4 linked regions of the Homo sapiens genome follow. The protein of the gene in region 3 purifies or fractionates together with the protein of the main gene of each other region. This does not show direct contact. Each region holds a gene or a part of one and is shown on either strand. Other genes may lie near its edges. The genes, in order: POMT2, PDZD8, PCDHB16 and MTHFR.

Region 1 (7,032 bases), on a different chromosome or scaffold from region 3:
TTAACTTTATGTTCTGGCACCAGGCCATTCCAACAAGACAATCTAGTGACTGAACTAGAATTAAGTCTGAATTACATAGATAGCCTCCTCCTCCCAGCTGATCTGGGCTTTCTGTAAGGGGGAAGAAAGATGAATCATGGCCAGAAATGGTCAGGGGAGAATCTCACATTTTCAAAATAGGTTTATATAACCCTCCACCCCTTTTTCCTGATCATTACCCAGTTGGTAGGCAAAAGGAGATGACCCATTTCTGAGAATGGCTGCCTTAGGTGACCAAACTGCTTCAGTAAGGTTTGCAGACCAGGAGGAGGTTAAAAACATAGAATCAAAAATCTTTTTGAGTTGATCTTTGAGGGAACTGTTCAGTACTTGACAATGTCATGCCTGTGGATGGTAGGGAGTGTGGGAGGTCCATCGAATACCTTGGCTATTGACTGTTGACACTGTTGGGTGGCCATTGCGACAAAAAGATATGCCAGTGTCAGACTGTAGATGGTTTGGAAAGCAGAAAACCTGGCAGTTTAGTTTCAAGGGCCACAGTGGTATACACAGAGTCAGATAATTGGACTGGAAAAGCAACATCAGCACTGTAAACTGAAAAAGTATCAGCAGTAGCAAGGTACTGATGAGAGCCTAGAGAAGGGAACAAAGTCCTAATGTCAATCTCCCAGGAGCAGGTGTGGTCAGTGCCCCTTGCAATGTGGCTTCCTTTACTGCAAGACAAGCAGGCCAACTTTTGGCAGGAGTCACAAGTCTGGCACGCAGTGGTGGCTTCTGCCTCAGAAACATGTAGTCCCTTACGTTGTGCCTAGCCCATGATGGTAGATGTTTCCACACCGGTTGCATGAATCCAGGTGGCTATGGCAGCAGTCTTGGTGGTGCAGGCTGGATCAGCAGTTTGATTCCAGTCAGTCTTACGAGAGTACCTGCCCTTAGTGTGGGCACCTACGTGAGTGATCCAGTCTGTCCTATTGGCAGGCAGCCATGATGTGTTTCCACACTTCTCAGCTTTCATCTCTCAGTATTTAGTCTTCCAAGTGGCATACCAAATGCTTCAATCCTTACTGCCATCAGCCATCCAGAGTTATCATTGGGGCTAAGTGCCTGCTGCTGCTTGGTGGGCAACATCAGCTTTTAACTCAGCCTAATCATTGGTGAGCCAGGCCTAAGCATTTACAGGAACCCCTGTGAATCAAGGGCCCTACTGAACAGCAGCTCGGCTTCAGGTAGCAGAGAAGGTTGTTTCTCCCAGAGTGGGAGCTGCCACTTCTTCACGTAAAACCAAGATGCCTCTAGGGCCAGGCTAGCTATACTCTTTTTTTTTTTTTTTTTTTTTTTTAGAGATGAGATCTGACTCTGTTGCCCAGTCTGGAGTGGAGTGGTACAATCATAGCTCACTGCATCCTCAAACTCCTGGGCTCCTCCTGTCTCAGCCTCCTGAGTAGCTGGCACTACAGGCACGTGCCACCATGTCCAGCTAATTAAAACAGATTTTTTAAGAGCTGAGTTCTCACTATCCTGCCAAGGCTGGTCTTGAACTCCTGACCTCAAGCCATCCTCCTGCCTCAGCCTCCTGAATAGCTGGGATTACCAGCTGTACTCTTGAATGTACTATTTCCATAGGATCAGTGAGGCTTGTTAAACCCTTCCCTTGTTATCAGTAGATTCCCATTGACCCACCCCAAAGTGGGAATACTAGGCCAGGGAGTCCTGAGGCCTTTATGGGTCTGGCAATCAATTTCAAAGTGTTGAGTAGTTAACTAAGGAGTTAATAGCTGTCCTTTTAAAAAGGGTGTGCTTGGTACCTATGTCCAGCAGGTGGCACTGTGATTCTGGTGCATGGCTCTCAGTACTCCAGCAGCCACAAAGTTGTTTTTTGTTTGTTTGTTTTTGTTTTTTGAGATTCTCGCTCTGTCGCCCAGGCTGGAGTGCAGTGGCGCAATTTCAGCTCACTGCAACCTCTGCCTCCTGGCTTCAAGCAATTCTCTGCCTTAGCCTCCCGAGTAGCTGGGATTACAGGCGCCCCTATCACGCCTGGCTACCTTTTTGTATTTTTAGTAGAGACAGGGTTTCACCATGTTGGCCAGGCTGGTCTCAAACTCCTGACCTCAGGTGATCCGCCCGCCTCGGCCTCCCAAAGGGTTGGGATTACAGGCATGAGCCACTGCACCCAGCCGCCACGAAGTTTTTAAGCCTGTGATTTATTTCCTTTCCCTTCCAGGGATGTAGATTTTTTTCTTCTGGACCACCAGGAGAGGACAGGATCACCTGTCTACACACAGCAGCCCTTGCCCAGGATAATCCTCTTCGACACTTATGGGATCAGTATCAGCTATACATTCAGCACTGGAAGCCACAGGAATAGTACATTGAAGAGGCCCAAAGAGCTCTGCCTGGAATGTCACTTTAACTTCCCTTCCCTACAGGGAGCGTGGCTCAAACATTACCAGTTTAATCTGGACACTTTTTCCCCTCGAACTAATGCGTCTAGAAGGCCTGCATCAGGGGCTATGGTGACAGCCAGCCAGAGATTTTGCCATTTCCCAGTCGGAGAGTGTGGCGGTGCTGGCTGCAGGGAGTGGGGAGAAGCTTTTTCTGCTCCTTTAGCTCTTCACTAGGCTTGCATCACGACCTCCCCAGTGTCGCTCCCTCAGGGTTAGGGGCCCTTTTCCCTTTAGTCCTTGTGCGCACTGCTATGGCTGTCCCTGCAGTCCTGAGTGTCTGCAGTAACCTCTGTGTGTAGTACATCCTTCCCCCCATGAGACATGGTAGGGTGGAGATGTGGGACCTCATATCCAGCAGAGCCCTGAGTTTGCCCCTCTCCTCCCTGGGGCTCTCCAGCATACTAGGATGGGTGTGTATGACCTTCAGTCCCCTTTAGGGACATGGAAACCTCAGCCCAACCTTTAATCATCTCAGTCTTTAATGCAGCTGAGGTTGTGGTAGAGTGGGAGGGATCCTGGGACATAAAGGGAGAGAGTGGCTCCGAGCCACAAAGCAAGTCATATTTATATTTACTTTTGGCTTGAGTACACAGCTCCCCCAAGGATCTTTCAGTGTTTCATTTTACTCAAAGTTCTATCTTATATAGCAGGGTCCTATTGCCGCACCGTTGGAGACTTGTTGATTGAGCAGCCATATCCATATTGCCTTTTGGCAGGGGCTGCTGGGCTTGCTGCCATTGTCATGATCACTCCTCTTCCTCCTTTTGCCCAGAGGACAGGGCAGTAACCAGGGTGACATTCAGTGGCTTGTTTCAATCCTACCTCTTTCCATCAGCCTCTCTAATAGTGGGACAGTGGGGGACTCTCACTACCCCATTGCCTGCCCATGGAGGCCCTCATTCTTTCTCTTACCAAAGACTATGTCTCTCCTCATCCTATGCTTGTCTCCACACTGTCAGGGGCTGTGATTTTATCTTAGCCTACTTATTAGCTAATAAGTTAGCCTGTCACTGTTTTTTGCATGCTGACAGAAGACAAAGTCTTGGGTCAGAGACAGAGGACTTTATTTCTCATGGCACAGCAAGTGGGATGTGCATCAGCATGTTGGCATCAGTTTCCTTTGCCCCTAAGTCCCACGTGGTGCTGAGGGACTGGATGAATGCTTGCACATGCAGTAGCTTGCATCACAGCTGAGTAATATTAAGCTTAGGGAATCTGCTGTTTTATGGCAAGCAATAAACAAGACAGCCCTCTGTCTCAGAGGGAGACACTAACTTCCCTCAAGGTTGTTTACTGCAAACAGCATTCTTGGCATACCTTGCAAGGCCTGGAGGAGCACAAGAGAGCCACGGAGGACTGTCTCTCCTAACACAAGCAATAAAAGCCAGGAGGAAATATGAATGTTACAACTGGTTTTACTTGGGAAACTTTTGAAGTAAAAATCTGGAGCCCAGGCTGGGTGCGGTGGTTCACACCTATAACCCCAGCACTTTGGGGGGCTGAGGCAGGTGGATCACCTGAGGTTTGGAGTTTCGAGACCAGCCTGGCCAACATGGTGAAACCCCATCTCTACTAAAAATACAAAAATTAGCCAGGTGTGGTGGCGGCCGCCTGTAGTCCTAGCTACTTGGAAGGCTGAGGCAGGAGAATCGCTTGAACCCGGGAGGTGAAAAGTGCAGTGAGCCAAGATTGTGTCCATGTACTCCAGCCTGGGCAACAAGAGTGAAACTCTGTCTCAAAAAACAAGCAAAAACAAAACAAAACAAAACAAAACAAAAAAACTGGAATCCTTTTGTTAGTATGTTCCCAAACAGATTTAAAAACTAACCACAAATGTCAGGACAGTTTAAGGAGGGCCCAGCAGGGATGGTACTTTATAATCTACAGAATTCTTTCACATGTGTTATCTGAGTTGAGCCCTAAGGCCTCCCTGGGAGGTGGGCAGGGCAGATAATATTATTGTCTTCATTTTGTAGATGAGATAAGAGGACTAGAGAGAATAAGTGATTTTGGCGGGTTGTGCCATTAATTAGTGGTGGAGCTGGGACTGGATCTCTCTTTCTGCAAATCAGTTTCATTACCCTGCTTTGAAGTTATTTCTGTCTTCGACCTCACCATGCCAATGTCCTCACTGCCTGTCAAGGTGTTTAGCAGATGCTGAAATAGACCTATTCTTTTGCCTATCTTGGACCCACCAAGTAAGATATAAAAAGAACCTTAGATTCTTAGGTAAAGCATGTTTTCCCCTTATGTAGTAGGTCAATAATGACTGCTCATGACCTGGGGATTGATGACTACTAGAAAGTAACCCTTCTTTTGAGCTACAGGGAGAAAATTACAAATAGAAAAGGCCAGGCTCTGCTGGATGACTTGGCTGCGTTCCCAAAGCCCTCATGTATGGTGTAGAAAGGTGTATGTGGTTGTATAAAAGAGGACTTTGCATTGTGTTTGAAAGCCTGTTTATTCAAATCACTTATTTACTTGCAAAATAACTTAAGCAATGAGGATAGGTTTTAGATGTGGTCTTAATTTAGTAAGAAAGCCTTCAACTTTTATATACTAGTTAGTATAAGATCAGCCAGATCACAGTTAGCAGCTTACTTGTCACAGGGTGGCTGAGCAAAATGAGACTCCTGTGACACTCATGGTTTATAGACTCAACTCTGACCAGCAGCCCAACAGCGTCGTAATGGACCTTCTAATAGCAAATGTTGTCTCAGAAGTTAGCAGACTTGGAAGAAACTTTTTTTAATTTAAATTTTTGTTTACACTAGCTACTTGAAGATAGGAAGAAAACTTTTTTTTTTTTTGAGACGGAGTCTCACTCTGTCGCCTAGGCTGGAGTGCAGTGGCGCGATCTCGGCTCACTGCAAGCTCTGCCTCCCGGGTTCACGCCTCAGCCTCCCTAGTAGCTGGGATTACAGGCACGTGCCACCATGCCTGGCTAATTTTTTGTATTTTTAGTAGAGACAGGGTTTTACCATGTTAGCCAGGATGGTCTCCATCTCCTGACTTCGTGATCCGCCTGCCTCGGCCTCCCAAAGTGCTGGGATTACAGGTGTGAGCCACCGTACCCGGCCAGAAGAAAACTCTTACTACAAACCTTTCCATATTATGAGAAAACATCTTGTCCTTTTAAAATAAATAGAAACTCAAGATACAGAGTAAGTATATGTATATTTAACTCAATTGGTAACTGGCTAGTGAATATTTGCTCGCCTTTCTCATCTATCTAAATGAAGACCAGTGGCCAGCTTGATGTCTTTCTTCCTAAAATCACTTGTGTCAAAATATTTTTTTTTTAAATCCAGACTTTTGCATTAATTGTTTGAAATGCATAGCCTTTAATTTTAACCATGCTTTATGAAGGCCATTTGGATTTTATGATAATTTTAAAATTCTTGTTTCTCTTTCTGTGTTTCCTTTAGTTGGGATGAGACTCACTTTGGAAAAATGGGAAGTTACTATATCAACCGTACATTTTTCTTTGATGTGCACCCGCCCCTGGGAAAGGTGAGCAGTGTGGTGAATAGCAGCTCTCTGGTCCCAGAGGATTGTTCCTAAGGGCTGGAGCCACATCTTGATTTTGGATTTGGGGCTTCTAGAAAGAATTTGGGACTTGTAGAAAGAATTTTCTGACATTTCAGACCAGCTACTTTCATGGAAAATCTCTGGTGTTTTTTAAGGGTCCTCTGGGCTCAGAAATGGAAAGAGGGCCCATCAGCTGAGGGAGGGATGAACAAAGTGTGGCACAGCCATATGGTGGAATAATATTTGGTCATAAAAAGGGATGAGGTTCTGATACATGCTACAACATGGATGAACCTGGAAAACATGCTAAATGGAAGAAGCCAGACACAAAAGGTTACATACCCTGTGATTCCACTTATATGAAATATCTAGAACTGACAAATCCGCAGAGACACAAAGTAGATTAGTGGTTGCCAGGATCTCAGGGCAGGGAGGATTAGGCAGTGACTGCAAATGGGTGTGGGGATTCTTTATGGGGTGATGACATGTTACAGAATTAGGTAGTGGTGATGATTGCACAATCTTGTGAATATACTTAAAACCACCCATTGCACACTTTAAAATGGTGGATGTTATGTTATGTGAATTTGTCTGAATTTTAAAAAAGAAAAAAGAAATAGGAATACATTGCATGAAGCAGAAATAGCTTACGAGGCTGATATCCATATGGGGCTGACTTCTTTCTCCCTTCCCATGCCCAGCATACACATGGTTTGATCTGTTTCTCTCACATGTTTTACCATTAGAAATTCAACCAATTAGAATTCACTTTACTCTTTTTTTGTTTGTTTGTTTTTGAGACAGAGTTTCACTCTTGCCACCCAGGCTGGACTGCAATGGTACAATCTTGGCTCACTGCAACTTCTGCTTCCCAAGTTTAAGTGATTCTCTTGCTTCAGCCTCCCAAGTAGCTGGGATTACAGGCGCCCGCCACCACGCTGGCTAATTTTTGTATTTTCAGTAGAGACGGGGTTTCACCATGTTGGCCAGGCTGGTCTTGAACTCCCAACCTCAGGTGGTCCACCCGCCTTGGCCTCCCAAAGTGTTGGGATTACAG
Region 2 (7,695 bases), on a different chromosome or scaffold from region 3:
ATGATATGTAATCTCACTGTCATTGGCTAGTCTACAAATTTCAAAATAATAATCTAGTCAAATTGTATTAACTGAAAGCTATCAGAAAACATCATAATTGAAGTTGTGATAGAATACCAAAATTTCTAGCAACTTTTTCTCATGACTTTTTTGGCAACACACTGCTATAAATAAACATCTCTCACTGCTTAAACACTAGAACCGAGTTATAATTTAATCACTGATATTCCAGAGGTTAAAAGTAGGTTTCATAAAGTATGTTCTACTTCACAGAACCAGAAATCGAACACAGTGAACAACCAGTTCACCACCCTCCGCAAATCTATGGAAATATTTCCATTACAAAGTAAATTTCTCCTGCCACGCAAGTTTTAAACTGTCACTCTGCGCTGTTAGCCTAAACAAAACATAATTGGTAAGGTACATCTGCCACATACAGAAGTCAATAATCCATTCCAAACCCAAAATATTTCTGGATTATCTTGCTCCTGAAAATTGACACTGGTAGAAAATTAGTGATCCAGAAATAGGCAACTTCCACTAAAAGGCAAGTAAAATTAGGTAAGTAAAATACAAGACTGACATAATTTTATAATAAAGGGCAAAATTTTAAAGGCTCAAATGTCTTAGTGAATACAAAATTAAAGGAGGACCGAAAGAGAAGTTAAAAATTCAGCTTTTTACAAAAGAAAAAGCACCTTCCACTCCACCTCTAGCCCTAAAAAAGTCTTTCCCCTTCCACTCCTACAATATTAAAACAAAATTTATATACTACTCAAAACTGTATACCACAAAATTTAAGCCATCAGATGCTGGAAGGCTTAAACAAAATTAAAATCACTACCTAGCATTAAAATACAATTTGTACAGTGACTTCAGGTCCCTTGAGAGAAGAACTTACAGTCACAGAGAGTAAATGCTTGATGGGCAGAGTCTGGATCTGTGTTCTACAATCTACCCAAAATGGGCAAATGACATTAATACAAAATGTAAAGTACACTATGTACAGGCTCCCAACTCCTTTCCCATCTGCTGTGGAAAGTATTCCCGGGCCGGGCGCGGTGGTTCACTCCTGTAATCCTAACACTTTGGGAGGCCGAGGCAGGCGGATTACTTGAGGTCAGGAGTTCGAAACCAGCCTGGCCAATACGGTGAAACTCCGTCTCTACTAAAAAATACAAAAAAAAAAAAAAAAAAAAAAAAAATCAGCAAGGCGTGGTGCCATACGCCTGTAACCCCAGCTACCTGGGAGGCTGAGGCAGGAGAATCGCTCGAACCTGGGAGGCAGAGGTTGCAGTAAGCCGAGATCGCGCCACTGTACTCCAGCCTGGGCGACACAGCAAGACTCTGTCTCAAAAACAAAAACAAAAAAAACCCACAAAAGTATTCCTTTGCAAGAGTTACCACCTCTGCCTTGAAAGGTGTCAAACCATCAAAGCAAAAGTGGCTTGCAATGTCAAATTAGCACAGACCTGGGCTATAAGCACACTCTTCACGCGTGTACTGTGTCCAGGAACAATTTCTCAAAGCGGCCAAGGGGATGCTGCAAAGCCAGTGACGCGGCTGCCCTCAATGCAGCAACCACATAGAGGGAGAGTTTCTCAACAGTCCCAGAAGCGACTCCTGGGGATTAGGGTAGGCTTCCCTTCCATTTCCAATATGCTGCTTATAAAAGGAGACGATTCTGCCCGCGTTGACAGCACCCTGAGTCCCCATGAACACGCGAAAAGGTTTCTAGCTCCTATCAATGCCGTTCGGAAGCAAAGCAAGTGTTCACGACTCGCCTTGATCTGGGGCCCTGTCCAGGGTGGGAAGGCCCCAGAAGCAGGCGCCAGGACAGAAATGAGCCTTTGCCCTTCCCAATCCACGCAGCGTCCCGCCCAGGCCCGGGTTCCCGGCAGCCAGGCCCCCTCCCCGACCTCCAGCTCACCTGATCTTGTAATTCGGTAGGGTGTGCTTGCGCTTGATGATCTTCTTGAGCTGGTTGACGATGATGGAGGTGAGCTGGGGCATGGGCCGCCCTTCAAACTGGGAGCGCACCTCGAAGTCGATCAGCGGGTCTTCCACGAAGGAGAAGAACCAGTGGGTGAAGGGCACGCGCGTAAAGACCAAGCGCAGCCTTCCCACCACGCGGGACAGCTTGACAAACAAGTAGGCGGACTTGCCGAAGACCAGGTCCACGTCGATGGCCAGGTGGAAGCCCCCGTTGTACTCCACCTCCGCCTCGAAGGCCAGCTCCTCGGGGCAGGCGGCGGGCAGCGCCTCCCCTTCAGGGCCATCGGGCTCCCCGGTGGCCGAGGGCACGACTGGCCGCACGAGCCGGATGGTCTTGATGAAGGGCACCGTCTCGCCCAGGAACACGTCCCGCAGGCTCAGCCCCTCCAGCAGGCGCCCGGCCGTCTTGGTCTGCAGCAGCTCCTCGAACTCCACCTTGATCTTCTTGGTGACCCAGCGGCGGGTCAGCGCGGTGTCCCGCAACTCCCGGAACAGGAATAGGATGGTGGCGTTGAGGAAGTAGCAAGTCTCCCGCGTCGGCGGGGCGGGGGTCTCGGGGGCCGCGGTGGGGGTCGCGCCGCCCTCAGGGGCCGCTCCGGAGGGCTCCTCATCCCGGCCGCCGCCATAAAGGTACTCCCTTAGGAGCAGGCCCGGCACTGGCTTGATGTAGCGGAAGCCCTCGCCCGCGCGGGCGGCCTCGTCCGCCGGCGGCTCGGGCTGTCTGCGGTACAGCAGGAAGAACTGGGCGAGGAGCGTGAGGAAGGAACCCAGCACGGCCGACGCCAGGATCATGAGCAGCAGCCCCATCCCGCCACCGCCTCCGCCCGGGCCCCTACTCCCGCGCCCACAGCGCCGCTTTCTTCACGCCGCCGCCCCCGCTGCCTCCATTTTGAGGACATCGGGCGGCTGGGTCGGGGCGAGCGGCTCCGTGGGCCTCGTCCAGGGGCTCGGGCCGGCGCGCTGCGGCGCCCGAGCCCGCAGCGGCCCGCGCCTCCTCAGACGCTCCCGAAGGGCCGGTGTGGCGGCGGCGGCAGCGGGGCCGGGACCGGCGCCTCCCTCAGGCCTCCACTCATTGGACGAGCAGCGCGTGACGTCAGAGGCGTGCTCGCTCCCGGCGGCGTCGCCCAGCAGTCGGCGCCCGGGCACGCGGACGCGGGTCCTCCTTTACTTCTCTGCGGCCCTTCCAACCTCGTCCCCCCACGCCAACATTCCAATCCCCGCGGCGCGCGCCGCCACCCACGTGGCCGTCACTTCTGGAGCTGCGGTCGGGATCTGGGAGGACGGCTGGGGACGCGGGCTGGAGGATAAGGCGGTCCGGCGGAGCGGGCCTGACGCGTTCCGGATGCCGGCCATCCCGTTATCCTCGGCTGCGCCCATCCCCCGTCTCTGGCCGCAGTCCCCGCGGTTACCTCTGCAGCGGCGTCGCTCATCCTGCGGTGTGCTTCTTCCACTCGCACCCGTGACAGCCCGGCTGGCAGCGGCGCTTTCCCTGCGGGCAGCACCGCAGACGATCCGAGCGGGCCTTTCGGACGCTTCCCAAGCCCACGGCGAGAGGGGACCGACTGCCTCAGAGGCAGCCATCGCGGACCTGCCGTCCCCCCGGCAGACGCTCTGCGTCCGCGGAGGGTGGGCCCTGGGAAGGAGGGACGCAGGGAAAGGGCGCGCCACGCGGAATGACTTTCCCACCGAGGTGGATCTTCGAAATTTCAGGGAGGAGGAAGTTGAAAGAACAGCCAGGAGGAGAGATGCATAGTGAAACGAGTTTGCCAAGTGATTGGAAGATTAATATGCGACCCGCTGTCAGTCTCTGGTTAAGCCGGTAGTCCATCTATGAGGCAGTTATTCACTGTTAGCCCCCACCCACTTGACAGATGCCAACACTGGTGCAGAGAGCGTGGGGAGGTTGCGTGGGGCCGCAGAGTGGAGCCTGGTTTATCTAACACTAAACCCTAATGTCTTGATCACTACTCTCTGCCCTAACACAGAAACTGCTTCAGTTGTAAGCAGGCCAGTGGGTTCCCTAATGTTCAGGAAGGGAGAATTGGGGAGGCGGATTAGGGAAGACGGCAAGGAATTTTGCATAGAGTAGCACCTTAACCAAAGCCACGAAGCTAAGCCAGGTTGCCCAGCAACAGCGTTACTCCTCCTGCCCTCTGACTACTTAGTGGTTACATCATAAATGCTTATCCCTCCAAGCACGTGGAGTTCCAGTCCTGCAGGAGTCAGATATCCCATACCTTAAAGGCCGATTCTGGCTGTACCTAAGGAGCCAGGGCAGGGCTCCTCTCTAGCCCTTGAAAACCTTCAAGCCGGCCGGGCGTGGTGGCTCACGCCTGTAATCCCAGCACTTTGGGAGGCCGAGGCGGGCAGATCACGAGGTCAAGAGATCGAGACCAGCCTGGCCAACATGGTGAAACCCGTCTATACTAAAAATACAAAAATTAACCGGTCGTGGTGGTGCGCGCCTGTAGTCCCAGCTACTCAGGAGGCTGAGGCAGGAGAATCACTTGAACCCGGTAGGCGGGGGTTGCAGTGAGCCAAGATCACGCCATTGCACCCCAGCCTGGGCGACAGTGCAAGACCCTGTCTCAAAAAAAAAAGAAGAAAACCTCCAAGCCAAGGATTCTCTTAACTGTAGGTGATTCTACCACAAAAATAGACCTGACCCAGCTGGGACAGGTACAGAACTTCGGAACCAGGCTTATCATGCCTTACCGAATCATGCCCAGATACGAAACCAGAATGGCTTTCATTACTATGAAGACATAAGATAGGTGTCTGCTGAGGAACCATGCTCAAACCATGGCCGAGATTTTTCGGAGATCTTGGCAACTTCTGTTCTCTGGTCCCCTTTGGTTCCTGGCCTCTGCTTCTGGGCTGCTCTCTGGGATCTACACTGTTTCAACTCAAATGAGAAATGTAGACCCTTCTATGATTTCCACCGTAAACCTATTCATAACATTCATGCACATTGCATATTATAAATGTTACAGAAGCTGGAAGTAGGGTGGCATGAAAGAAGTTATTCACATTCCTGAAATATAAAACCCTCAAACTGTATATTGATCCATCCCGAGTTGCAAAATATTCTTCACCCACCTCCCTCCTCAACAATGAAAGTTTGTGGTCTTCATGGGAATGAGTCCTCAGTCTTCATCTTGCAGACTCCTTTCTTTTCTCTTCTCCTCTCACTTCTGCGCTCCTCAGAATACCTGTGAGAATCTTAAATCTTCTCAGTTTGTTTTACAGAGTCAGAGTCATTGCATTCCCCAGCAAAACTTGACCCCTTAGGGACACACTTCAAATCCATGAAAGAGCTCAGCAAACCTTTTGGGAAGAAAAAAGTATTCTCCCTTGTGTGAAACATGACCAACATTGATTAAACACTAATAATAATAATACAGAGAACTGACCATGTGCCAAGCACAGTGTTAAGCATGTTATTTAGAAATATTTAAATATTTCAAACATTATTTAGAAATCAAAATATCATGAGTTTTTGTAAAGTCAAATATGCAGTCATGCACCATAGAAGGATGTTCTTGTTAACGACAGACTGCCTATAGGATGGTGGCCCCATAGGATTATAGTACCGTATTTTTACTATGCCATTTCTGTGTTTAGAGATGTTTTGATACACAGATACCATTGTGTTATGGTTGCCTACAGTATTCAGTACAGCAACGTGCTGTATAGATTTGTAGCCTAGGAACAATAGGCTATACAATATGGCCCAGGTATGTAGTAGGGTTTCCCATCTAGGTTTGTGTAAGGACACTCTGATGTTCGCACAATGATGAAACTGCCTAAAGATTCACAACTTATGTCTGTTGTTAAGCCACACTTGACTGTGTTTGATAAGTTAGGAGATAATGCTCTGGATAATATTGGTGTTAGCATGCCCTTTATTTTATGAAATTATACTATGTTAATAGAGACGAATTTGTTTTAATGCTATTTTCTGGAAAAGGATAAATTCAGCAACCCCTCCCTTTTTTTCTTATATTAATGCTGGTTCATAGAAACTCAAAAGCCTGAGAACCACTGGCCCCAGCTCTGAAGATCGATGATTCTGAATAGGTTTTTAAAGGAAGCAGTTGTGCTTAGCCTCCCTGCTGACTTTTTAATGTGTTTTAAATGACATCATTGAAATTAAGCTGCCCCAACAGCCTTCATGGAAATATCCATTTCAAGGTCGAAGTCAGTTGAATACTGGAAGATGGGTTGCATATAAGACATTCTCACCAACTAGAGGGATGCATGGACCACTGCTTGACTATGAATCATTCCTGGTGACCGCGAAAAATAATGAGAAAGCCAAACCACGTAAATGTGCAAAGTTTGTGAGTAGCATGAAAGCAAATTTGATTTTTTGAAAGATGTAAAATAATGCAAATATAGTGAAATATGGTGGGAAACATAGAGTTTATAAGGTTTGCCTAACAAATGATACATCAACAAACCATTTTGTGAACTGGGAGAATTCAAATTCCACAACTATTTTTTGAGCATCCAACAAGTACTAGGCTCCAGGGATACTGAATGAACAGGGGCGCTGCGCCCCAGGTGGAAGCAGACACACATCTGCATAACTCTGATGATAGGAGATAGTGCTCTAATAGAGGCACATGCAAGGTACTATGGGAGCAGAGCCTTCTGGTTCAGGGGCAGTGACAATTGATTGCAAGGAACAGCAACTACCTCAGGCTAACTTACAACTAAAATTGGATTCACGTTAAGGATGCTGGAATATCTCCAGGAACTCAGCTGCAAGATGTTCATAGAAATCCTAGAGTAAGAAAACTGTCTCTCACTCTCATTTCCTCTGCCCCCACCCCTACCCAGTATCTTATTTCTGCATCTCCCTGCAGGTCTGTGCCATTTTACTCCAGAAGGCTCTTGGTTTCTACTTCCCCATTACCCTCAGCACACAGGCACTTTGGGAGGCACCAGCTCTCTATCCAGATCTAGAGGGTCCTATGTCTCTGATGGCTAAGGTAGCCTGCAAGCTCAATCTCAAATCCTGGGAGAGAAATCTCCAATTGGCTGTGCTACTCCAATAATTTATGACCAAGGAGCTTGCCTCTTCTGGGCTGCTGGTGGGTGGGGCAACTTCTTCAAGGACTGGGAGAGGATTGAGAAGACATGATGGGCAATACTAGCTCAATAGGGGATAAGAGATTAATTCTTGCTGGGGAAGGTGGGAGGCTTTTGGGGCAAATGGAATTTGCATTGGCATTTAATGATTAGAAGGGCATTCTAATCAGAAGGAGACAAAAACTCAGAAGATGGAAACCCGCCAGTTTGGGGAAATTGAGACCAGGATGACTGGAAGAAGGTAGTACGAATAGGTTGGTGCATCAAGGAGAGAAGGGAGATGGAGGTAGCATAATAAAGTAGACACAAACTAAATTATGGAGAGATTAAATGTCAGGGCAAGTTTTTATTCTATTTTGCAGTTTTTGTGAAGTCTTCAAAGGTCTTTAAGCTAGAGAATGGCATTAACACTTTTCCTTCCATCTCCACCTGCAAAACCTCAACCCTAAATGAATCCAACTATCTACCTCCTCCCCTCTACATTATAAATTTATGGTCTTCGTTCTTATTAAGGCCCTCAAGGAAACCCAGACATTTTTCTCCACTACCACATTTATCCATTTTTTCTCCATTACCAGCATCTTCTTCCATGTCCCATAACAA
Region 3 (6,984 bases):
AAAAAAAAAGAAAGAAAAGAAAAGAAAGAAAGAAACTTTAAGAAAAGTATTATAATGAAAATTGAGCCCAACAAAAATACCAATTTTGAAAGGAAAATAGACAAAAGAAATGTAACATAGGAAATATGCCTAATACATGCAACAGGTTATTTTAATACTTGAAGTTCTAGGAAACTGAGAAGTAACATGAAAAATGGAGCAAAAAATGAATAGGAAGTAAATAAAATATAAAGACGGAAAAATTTTAAATGACATCAACTTTGAAGATAAAGTATATTTTGTTAATTGGGATTCTATATGCAACACCTCTTCGGGGTAAATATGAGGAAAAGGGAAACTGGAATTAACAATATAATTTGAACTAACAATCAGAGAAAAATACCTTATTGGTGGTGGTGAGCATGAACAATTTAATCAACAAGACAATCATAAGAAGTTAAGGAATTTATCAAATGGGTTCCTATCAATAATTAAATCCAAAGCTATTGTGAAGGGTGGAATTTTAATCTATTTCTTTCCTAGTGCCCTAAGGAGAGAAGTTGGGGATAATCGGCTTCAGGAACTTGAACTCACTTGTTTCTGAGCCTCCTGTCAGACACACCTCGTATTGGTAGCTCTGGGACAGGGTCCCGGTGCCGCTTACGTCCACCAGACGCCCTGGAAAGGGGCCCTCAGGCATCGAGCAGCGGCCCACCGAGGCCGCCCTGCTCCTCCTGCACAGCCGCACCGCCACGAACAGGAGCACCGAAAAGAGGAAGAGCGACGACACCGAGGCCAACGCCACCACCAGGTAGACAGTGAGCGAGTTGGCCTGGGTCTGGCCGGGGGCCGCCTCTGGGAGCGGCAGGAAGGGCTGGGAGAAGCCGTCCACCAGGAGCACGTGCAGCGTGGCGGTGGCCGAGCGCGGAGGCTCGCCATTGTCCTTGACCAGCACCACCAGCCTCTGCTTGGCTGCGTCGCGCTCGCTCAGCAGCCTGGCGGTGCGCACCTCGCCATTGTGCGCCCACACACCGAACAGCCCGGGCTCCGTGGCCTTGAGCAGCTGGTACGACAGCCAGGCATTCTGGCCCGAGTCGCCGTCCACCGCCACCACCTTGGTCACCAGGTAGCCCGGCTCGGCCGCCCGGGGCACCAGCTCAGTGCAGGGCGCGGAGCCGTTCTGCAGCGGGTACAGCACGAAGGGCGAGTTGTCGTTGGCGTCCAGCACCAGCACGCGCACCAGCGCCTCTCTGCTCAGCGCGGGGGAGCCGCGGTCTGTGGCGCCCACGCGGAACTCGAAAGCCTGCAGGGCCTCGTAGTCCAGCGACCTGAGGGCGAACAGGTGGCCGTTGTCCGCGTTGATGGAGACCAGGGAGGCGAGGGGCAGGTGCGGGTCTTGGGGCGGCAGCAGCGAGTAGGTGACCTGGGCGTTGGTGCCCGAGTCTCTGTCTGTGGCGCTGACGCTGCCGATGTGCAGGGCGGGGCTGTTGTTCTCGCGGACGAACAGGGTGTAGGAGGTTTGGGTGAAAGTGGGGGCGTTATCATTGACATCTGATATCTGCACTGTTATGTTGTGCTCCGTTTTCAGCCTTGGAGTCCCCATATCTGTGACGGTGAGGGTGATATTATATTCAGCTCTTGCTTCTCTGTCGAGTGCTCTCTCCGTTACCAAGGTGTAAAAGTTCTTGACTGAAGGTTTTAGAAGAAAGGGAAGGTCTTCCTGGATGGAGGAAATCGTCTTCCCATTGTTTCCGGAGTCAGGATCTGAAACGCTGAAAACAGCAACTACTATCTCAGGCGAGTTCTCTGGGATGGGGCTGGTGAGTGCAGACATGGTCACCTGTGGGGGATTGTCATTCACGTCCACCACCTGCAGGAGAAGAGTGCACTTTCCTGAAAGACCTCCCCCATCTGTGGCTTTGATGCGCACTTCATAAGACGTAACCATTTCGAAATCTACTTGCTTTCTCAGTCGAACTTCCCCTGTCATAGGATTTACCTCCAAAGTTTTACTAATATCCTCCGAAGGCTGAAAGAGTGTGTATGATATTTTTCCATTGGCTCCGCCGTCTAAATCCCTGGCGGAGACGGTGGCAACCAGGGAGCCAAGAGGACTGTTCTCTGGAATCTGCACTTTGTAGATGGGCTGCTCAAACTCAGGAGCGTTATCATTGATGTCCACCACTTCAATACGGACCTGAGCAGTTCCAGATCGCGGTGGAGAGCCACCATCCAGCGCTGTCAGGGTTAATCTTAGTTGAGGCTCCTCCTCCCGATCCAGCTCTTTATCCAACACTAGCTCAGGGTATTTCCTGCCATCTCTGAATTCATGGATTAGAACCCGGAAATGAGAGCTTGGGCTGATTTTATAGTTTTGAACATTATTGCTTCCTACGTCCAAGTCCAAAGCATGATTCAGAGGGAACTCAGTTCCTAGAGGACTGTTTTCCGGTATTTTTAGAATCATTTCCTTTTCAGTGAACATGGGAGAATGGTCATTTATATCTATCACCCTCAGTTCAGCCTGAAATATTTCTAAAGGGTTTTCCATTAACACTTGGAAATGTAGTATGCAAGGCTCAGTGGGACCGCATAGCTCCTCTCGATCTAGCTTCTCATTTATGAGCAAATCCCCAGTTTGAGCCTTGAGCTGCAAATGCTGTTTGTTCCCCTGGGAAATGATCCTGGCCTTGCGGGTGGACATCTCTGTCAACCCCAACCCCAGGTCTTTTCCTAGATTTGCCACAAAAGAGCCTCTCTCCGTTTCTTCCACTACGGAATAGGACCCCAACTCGGCGCCCGCCCCAGACAAGCTCAGCAAAACAAAGAAAACAAGGACTTGCCTTTGTCTCCGATTGTGCATCCATCCAATCTCCATTGCTTTTTCTTGAAAAGTTGGTTCACAGAAGCTTCATGTATCCCCAGGATCCTAGTAGAACTGTTTTGCAGTCCAGAATGTCAGAACCAAGCAGCCCAACGGTGTCTTAAAGAGGTTTCACACTCACGTTCGCTCTGGCTCAGCTATTCTTCTGCTTCCAGGCTTTGGGAAACGGTTTGCTGGATCCTGGAGCTGCGTAGGCAGTTGTATTTTCCGTCATCTTAACCTGCAGCGCCACCACGCGTTCTCACTGAGTCTTTTACTGTGGTTGAATATTGGAGGCAAAATACTTCTAAATGTACTGAATAGACTATGTAATACAAAACACTGAGTTCTATTTTCATGTGACTTTCGTGTATACAGATGGAGCTCTGTGATGTTGTACAGGGAGGAGTACAAAGAGAAGACTGTCATTTATGTTATTGACTGTTTAATGCTGTTGAGATTAATGATTAAATAAAATTCAATGAACATTTAACCAGACATAGAATACACACTTAGAAGCAAAATTTTTCTGAAGTAACATGAGAACAGTTTCACAAGTACATCTTTTTCATGGTACCTATATAGACACTATGAGTAGACACTGCAAAATTGCAATCAGTGGTAGTTCTAAAGAGTATTTAACAATTGCTTTATTAAAGAATAAATTACTTCCTTTTCTTTCTGACACCTAACCCTGAGAAGTGTGAGTTTTTACAACTTTCAAGTTATTGGAAAATTCATTCCCAAACAAGCAAATCTCAAGGTTGGGTCTGCTACACTTTTGGATTCCCCCCACCCTTTTTTCATTTCAATGGCTTTTAATATATTCAGAGGTGTGCATCCGCCATCACAATTTTAGAACATTTTCATCTCAAGAGAAACCTTACCTCTTTTAATTATCACCGTACCCGTTCTCCCATCCCACTTATAAACATATGTGTGTGTGTGTGTGTGTGTGTGTGTGTGTGTGTGTGTGTGTAGGTTAACTGAAAAAGACTGAAGAAAGAGAATAAGAAATTCAAGAAATGAAACTATAGGTTAACTCTACTTCCTACTTAGACTCATTTCTTTAATAATGGATATGGCACGTAGAGAAAGTACAGGACTATAAATCAGGTTAATTCGCTCATCATAAAGTTCATTTGTAGTATCTGTCCCAGCATACTTAGAGCTTTGATAAGAACATGGGTATATTTGTGCAGAGTAGTATAAACAAACTATAAACTAAAACTTATATTTTCACATGAGAGTTTAGTTCATGGAGTAGGAGTAGGAATAACATAAATTTCACTTCCTTAGTTAGAAAAACAATGCTATCAGTTAATGCCTGACCATATAGCATATTGGCTAGACTTAGATTATATTTTAAATTTTTACCTTTATTATTTCAGAATTATAAGAAAGTTAATCGTTTTTTGTGGGGGGGAATGAGGTCTCACTCTGTCACCCAGCCTGGAGTGCAATGGCACAATCTTGGCTCACTGTAGTCTCTGTCTCCTGGGCTCAGGGGATCCTCTTACCTCAGCCTCCTGAGTAGCTGGGACTACAGGTTCGCAATCACACCTGGCTAATTTTTGTATTTTTGTTAGTGTCAGTGTTTTGCCCCATTGCCCAGGCTGGTCTCGAACTACTGAGCTCAAAGGGTTCAGCTTGCCTCAGCCTCTCAAAGTGTTATGATTACAGGTGTGAGCCACAGCTCACAGCCAAGTTACCTTTCTAAGCCTCAGTTTTCTCATATTTAAAAAAGGGGATAATATGTCAACTCCCTTAGGACTTGGGGAAACATTTAAAAGGCAATAAATGTAAAACATTCTCTACACCACTTTTAACTAAATTTTACCTAGATTAGAAATCAAAAAATAAAGGCTTAAAAAGATCAGTTACATTAATTTCTTCACTTCAGATCTGTGCATTTTACTATGTACATTTTAACAAAAATTGCACTGTTAAAGAATTATGATTAGAGTCCACTGGATATACTAATGAAGAGAAGATGAGATATCATTTTTTAAAACAGTGAAAACAAGACAAATACTATGGGCAAATGTAGTGTAATTTAAAATTTATGCTAAGTTGACAGAAAACCATTCCTTTGAATTGATCATAAAAATTAAAATATATAATATGAAATCAATTACTTTAACTGAAGGCTGAAACCAAAGCCATTCCTAAAGTTAGAGTTTTGTTCCATTTCTGGCCCAAAAGAATGGCCCTGAATATTAGGTAATACTGGTTTCAGGAGCTGGAACTCATTCGTCCCTGAGCCTCCTGCCAGGCACACCTCGTACTGATAGTTCTGAGACAGGCTCCCGGTGCCCCTCACGTCCACCAGATGCCCTGGAAAGGGGCCCTCAGGCACTGAGCAGCGACCCACCGAGGCCGCCCTGCTCCTCCTACACAGCAGCACCGCCACGAACAGGAGCACCGAGAAGAGGAAGAGCGAAGACACCGAGGCCAACGCCACCACCAGGTAGACGGTGAGAGAGTCGGCCTGGCCCTGGGCTGGGGCAGCCTCCGGAAGCGGCAGGTAGGGCTGGGAGAAGCCGTCCACCAGGAGCACGTGCAGCGTGGCGGTGGCCGAGCACGGAGGCTCGCCATTGTCCTTGACCAGCACCACCAGCCTCTGCTTGGCCGCGTCGCGCTCGCTCAGCAGCCTGGCGGTGCGCACCTCGCCATTGTGCGCCCACACACCGAACAGCCCGGGCTCCGTGGCCTTGAGCAGCTGGTACGACAGCCAGGCGTTCTGGCCCGAGTCGCCGTCCACCGCCACCACCTTGGTCACCAGGTAGCCCGGCTCGGCCGCCCGGGGCACCAGCTCGGTGCAGGGCGCGGAGCCATTCTGCAGCGGGTACAGCACGAAGGGCGAGTTGTCGTTGGCGTCCAGCACCAGCACGCGCACCAGCGCCTCGCTGCTCAAAGCCGGGGAGCCGCGGTCTGAAGCGCCCACCCGGAACTCGAACGCCTGCAGGGCCTCGTAGTCCAGCGACCTGAGGGCGAACAGGTGGCCGTTGTCTGTGTTGATGGAGACCAGGGAGGCGAGGGGCAGGTGCGGATCCTGGGGCGGCAGCAGCGAGTAGGTGACCTGGGCGTTGGTGCCCGAGTCTCTGTCTGTGGCGCTGACGCTGCCGATGTGCAGGGCGGGGCTGTTGTTCTCGCGGACGAACAGGGTGTAGGAGGTTTGGGTGAAGGCGGGGGCGTTGTCATTGACGTCCGACACCAGCACGGTCATATTGAGATGTGTTGTCAGCCTGGGTGTCCCTAAGTCAGTGACGGTGATAGTGACGTTGTACTCGGCTCTGCTTTCTCTGTCTAGTGGTGTCTCTGTTAGTAGGGTGTAAAAGTTCCCCACAGAAGATTTCAGGAGGAAGGGTAGATCCTCCTGAATGGAGCAACTTATTTTCCCATTTTCTCCTGAATCAAGGTCTGAAACACTGAAAAGTGCAACCACAGTTTCAGGCGCATTCTCAGGTATTGGGCTGGTAAATGCAGACATGGTAACTTCTGGGGCATGGTCGTTCACATCTATCACTTGAATCAGAACGGTGCATTTTCCAGAAAAGCCTCCAGCATCTCTCGCCTCGATATTGACTTCATAGGACTGAAATTTTTCGAAATCAAGTTGTTTCTTTAGTCGAATTTCTCCTGTCAAGAAATCGACCTTAAAAGTTTTGCTTATCTCATCTGAAGCTTGGAAAAGTGAATAGGAAATCTCTCCGTTGACTCCTGTGTCTACATCCGTGGCAGAGACCTTCACAACCAGGAAGCTTATTGGACTGTCCTCAGAGATCTGCACCCTATAGAAAGGCTGCTCAAATTCAGGGGCATTATCATTGACATCGACAACTTCAATGTAGACCTGAGCAGTGCCAGATCTGGGCGGAGAGCCACCATCCAGTGCTGTGAGTGTTAACCTGAGCTCAGCTTCTTCCTCTCGGTCCAGCGCTTTGTCCAGCACCAGCTCTGGGTATTTCCTGCCATCACTGCGTTTGCGGGTGAGGACCCGAAAATAGGAGTTGGGGCTGATTATATAGTTCTCAATATTGTTTTGGCCTATATCTAAGTCTTCAGCATTCTTCAGAGGAAACGCAGTCCCAGGAGGACTGCTCTCTGATACTTTCACCAACATTTGTTTGTCCAGAAAT
Region 4 (3,774 bases), on a different chromosome or scaffold from region 3:
CTCCGGCCGGCTGAGCTCAGGCGCTTCCTGCGGACAGTGCAGCTCAGGGTGCGGCTGGGACTGCCAGGGGCCGGCAAGGTACGCCCCAAGCCCCAGACTGACCTCACGCTCTGGCCCCGGATGGCCAGCAGGGGGAGCCTGCTGCTGGACGCCCCAGCCCCTTGGAAACAGGTGAAGGGAGCCTAGGCAGGGCGGGAGGTCCAAAAATGACCCTCGGACCACCGGCCTTAGAATCAGCTTGATTCAGCCGGTGGTGGCAGCATGGCTGGATGCCTCCCCAGGGGCCCAGCAACCTCGTATGCACCACCTCTCCCCAGTTCTCAGTCAGCCTCTGACAAGCAACTCTGAATCCATCAGCAAAGATGAACCTGGCACCTCTCGAGTGCCAGGCCACTGCAGGTCCGGCCGCAAAGACCAGCATGTTGGGTCACAGCCTGTTAGGGAGACATTGAAATGCATGCTTTCTCACGGTGCAGTTGAGGATCAGAATAGGTACACGAGGACAGTAGCATTTTTTTGTCAAGTTTTTTTGTTTATTTTTGAGACAGAGTCTGGCTCAATTGCCCAGGCTGAAGCAGAGGAGTGATCTCAGCTCACTGCAACCTCTGCCTCCCGGGTTCAAGTGATTCTCCCGCCTCAGCTTCCTGAGTAGCTGGGACTACAAGTGCACGCCACCACGCCTGGCTAATTTTTGTATTTTTAGTAGAGACGGGGTTTCACCATATTGCCCAAGCTGGTCTCGAACTCCTGAACTCAAGTGATCCTCCCACCTCGACTTCCCAAAGTGCTGGGATTACAGGTGTGAGCCACCGCGCCAGGCCAAGTTTTTTTTTTTCTTATTGGAAAAGTGAAATATGCTTATTACAGAAACCTCAGAAAATATAAAGTAGAAAAATACCAAAATTTCTTTCATAATTCTCTCTACCCAAAGGCATCGGTCAGTCCCTCTCCAGACCAGAAGCAGTTAGTTCTGACACCAACAAGTGGTGATAAGAGGTTGATAGCCTAGCAAGGGGGAAGAAGCCACCACCAAACCAAACACAAAAAATGACACTGCACAGCAGTCTGGGGACATGTCCTTGAAGGACACAGCCCCAAAGATACTGGCAGGTGAGGTAGTGTCCCTAAGATCAACAGGCATCATCATGAATCCTATTTCAGAATGCCACAAAGAATACGTTTTAGAGAAGATTCTAAGAGAAAAAGCTAAGGTGATTTTTTTTTTCAGTCGTTTTTTGTTCTCAGACAGTGTCTCACTCTGTCGCCCAGGCCAGAGTGCAGTGGTGCGATCACAGCTCACTGCAGCCTCAACCTCCAGGGCTCAAACGATCCTCCCACCTCAGCCACCTGAGTAGCTGAGACTACAGGCGTGTGCCACCACACCCGGCTAATTTTTTTTTTTTTTTTTTTGTAGAAATGGGATCTCACTATGTTGCCAGGGCTTGTCTCAAACTCCTGGGCTCAAGCGATCTACCTGCCTTGGCCTCCCAAAGCATTGGGCAGGCCCATTACGCCATGAGCCACCACACCTGCTGGTTTTTGTTTTTTAAATGGAATTGAAAGGAACTAGCCTTGGCTAGTTGCAGAATTCACACATATGGGGCTATGGCAACAGCAGATTCTGGAGTCTCAGGGTCTTTTCTTTCTAGATAAGTTACAGGGCAATTGCTTTTCAGAGTACTTTTACATTTCTATTCCATTCTTGTCAGTAAAGACAAGGATCCCATAAGCTGATGGAGAAACTGAGGCCTCTAGAAACTAAACGCTGGGAATGGCACCCAGGGTGCTGAATTCCAGGGTCTCCTCTTTTCTGCCACAGGCACACATGCCCCAGCAGCCCCTTTGGAGAGCCCCCTCTCTATAGGGTACTAGCCGGGGGCTCAGACTCTGGAGTCAGACGGCTTCCGAGGGATGAGGCCTCAGACAAGTAACTCAGCTTTGAAATGTTTTCAGTGGGGAGAGAAATAGCCCCCTCCCAGGGCTGTGCTCCGGGAACTGACTGAGGGCTAACTATTATGGGCCCACCCCATTGTTGGAATGTCTTCAGCCACATGGGGGAATGGGTGGAAGAGGCCGGGATGTGTCCTGCCAGCTAGAGCAGCGAAGAAATCCCAGCGGGGCCCCAGGAAGTCCAAGCCCATGGGGTTCAGGTGCTCCTCTCTGGCTATTCCTTCAGACCCGCAGCTGCTGGACACAGGCCACAGAGCTGGTGCCTCCCGCGCCATCACTGCAGTGCAGCCTGGGTGGACGGAGGAAGCCAAGGGGAACGGCCTGGGCTCAGAGTAAGGAGACCTTGCCCCGGGGGACAAACGGTGTCTGAAGTGCAGGGGTGAAGCGGTCTCCAGTCCTCAGGGGCCTGGAAATCAGCTCCTTGGGACACGGTCTTATGTGTATTGACCATTCTCCCCATCCATTCCCTCTTCGGAATGTTTCAGCTGTTCTGAGAAAACACTTTGCATTCCTGCCCCGCCCCTGTGATTTCTCTTTGGGCGGCAGGCAGCCGGGAGAGGCTGGAGGCCTGGGGAGATGGGGGCAGGGCACAAGGCTAAGCTCAGCACCTTCCTCCACCCTCCTCACTGTACTCAACTCCTAGGCGGGCACTAAGAGCAGCTGCCTTCCTGGACCCACCTTAACCTCTTGTGACTCAACTCCCCTTTCCAGGGTGCAGGGAACATTCCCTCTGCCCTGCCTTCCAGCTCTGGCCACAGTGGCCTGGACAGAGTAGCTGGGTCCCAGGCCTGCCCCTGTGGACGAGGGACCAGGGACCAAGAGCGCACTCCAGCCCTGAGCCCAGAGCCTGCAAAGCCCAAAGCAAGGCCCATAAACGGAGGCTACGGTAAGAGGAGCTGTGTGTGCAGTTTGGTGGGTCCGAGGGATGGGGGCAAGGGCTGAGGGGCTTGCCTGAGCCATGGCTACAGCTGGGCCCTCTCTGGCCAGTGCTCGTTCCTGCAGGATCCTGGAAAAGCAGGCCCAGGCCCATGGCTCTGCCCTCCTTCTGGCCCTGAAGGGTCACGATGCTCTTGGCCATCAGGAGGAAGTACCTGCAGCGCCGGTGCCTCGAGGCACTGCTTCACGGGCTGCGGGGTTCCCAGCAGGCCAGGTGCCTGGCAGTGGCATGGCAGCACTGGGTGGATGCCCAAGGGGCAGAGCAGCTGGTGCGGACCCTGGTGAGTGGGTGCACCCCTCTCCACACTGACCATCTCCCATTTCACCTCATACTTAACCCAAACCCCTCTCAAAAGTATGGCCCTTGGACCTACTGACTCCAAAACCTTGGGGGACAGGCCCAGGAATCTGCATTCTTAATACTCCTCAGATGACACCCCCTTGCCATAGCCCTTTCACTCTGGTGCAGCAGTGTCGGGGGAGAAAGGCAGAAGGGCTGGGGACTGCGGGGGAGCGTGAGCACAAGAGGCCTTCTCTGCCAACTGTCCCCAAAGCTCAGGGAGTGGCACCTGAGATGGGCCTGGCAGACGTGGTGGCAGCGGATCCTGCGACTGCGAGTGGCTCAGCAGTTACAGCAGCAGGAAGATGGGTGGGTCCTTTCCCAGGTACTGCCCTCTTCCCTGCATTCCACTCAGCCAGCCTTCCAGAAGTCTGTGCCACAGCCACGCACCGTGGAGCTTTCCCTGCTTGCCAGCCCCGGGGCCCCTTCGTTTTCAGGGGAGGGGGTCAGTTCCATTACAGAACACACAGGCTGGATGCTGGAGCCCTTGCTTTGATTTGTGGCCCCAGCTCAGGCCAGGCCCACCCGGTCCATCAGTTTGCGAAGAA

Evidence for each region.
Region 1: the proteins of PCDHB16 (region 3) and POMT2 purify together in Homo sapiens (affinity purification with mass spectrometry; 2 studies listed by BioGRID and IntAct, with this or other methods). This does not show direct contact.
Region 2: the proteins of PCDHB16 (region 3) and PDZD8 purify together in Homo sapiens (affinity purification with mass spectrometry; 2 studies listed by BioGRID and IntAct, with this or other methods). This does not show direct contact.
Region 4: the proteins of PCDHB16 (region 3) and MTHFR purify together in Homo sapiens (affinity purification with mass spectrometry; 2 studies listed by BioGRID and IntAct, with this or other methods). This does not show direct contact.

The regions. Positions count from the first base shown.
Region 1 is NC_000014.9:77,310,874-77,317,905, reverse strand, and holds part of POMT2 (protein O-mannosyl-transferase 2), read left to right. Parts: intron 1-5,872; coding exon 5,873-5,957; intron 5,958-7,032. UniProt on the Homo sapiens protein: Transfers mannosyl residues to the hydroxyl group of serine or threonine residues. Coexpression of both POMT1 and POMT2 is necessary for enzyme activity, expression of either POMT1 or POMT2 alone is insufficient.
Region 2 is NC_000010.11:117,372,426-117,380,120, forward strand, and holds the start of PDZD8 (PDZ domain-containing protein 8), read right to left. Parts: upstream 3,016-7,695; 5' UTR 2,803-3,015; coding exon 1,931-2,802; intron 1-1,930. UniProt on the Homo sapiens protein: Molecular tethering protein that connects endoplasmic reticulum and mitochondria membranes. PDZD8-dependent endoplasmic reticulum-mitochondria membrane tethering is essential for endoplasmic reticulum-mitochondria Ca(2+) transfer.
Region 3 is NC_000005.10:141,178,433-141,185,416, reverse strand, and holds the start of PCDHB16 (protocadherin beta-16 precursor), read right to left. Parts: upstream 3,031-6,984; 5' UTR 2,858-3,030; coding exon 527-2,857; 3' UTR 1-526. Other genes in the region: PCDHB8 (protocadherin beta-8 precursor), read right to left, coding at 4,977-6,984. UniProt on the Homo sapiens protein: Potential calcium-dependent cell-adhesion protein. May be involved in the establishment and maintenance of specific neuronal connections in the brain.
Region 4 is NC_000001.11:11,785,212-11,788,985, forward strand, and holds the end of MTHFR (methylenetetrahydrofolate reductase (NADPH)), read right to left. Parts: coding exon of another isoform or gene 3,441-3,774; 3' UTR 3,168-3,440; coding exon of another isoform or gene 2,938-3,167; 3' UTR 2,837-2,937; coding exon of another isoform or gene 2,662-2,836; 3' UTR 2,283-2,661; coding exon of another isoform or gene 2,177-2,282; 3' UTR 512-2,176; downstream 1-511. Other genes in the region: uncharacterized protein C1orf167, read left to right, coding at 1-78, 2,177-2,282, 2,662-2,836, 2,938-3,167, 3,441-3,774. UniProt on the Homo sapiens protein: Catalyzes the conversion of 5,10-methylenetetrahydrofolate to 5-methyltetrahydrofolate, a cosubstrate for homocysteine remethylation to methionine. Represents a key regulatory connection between the folate and methionine cycles.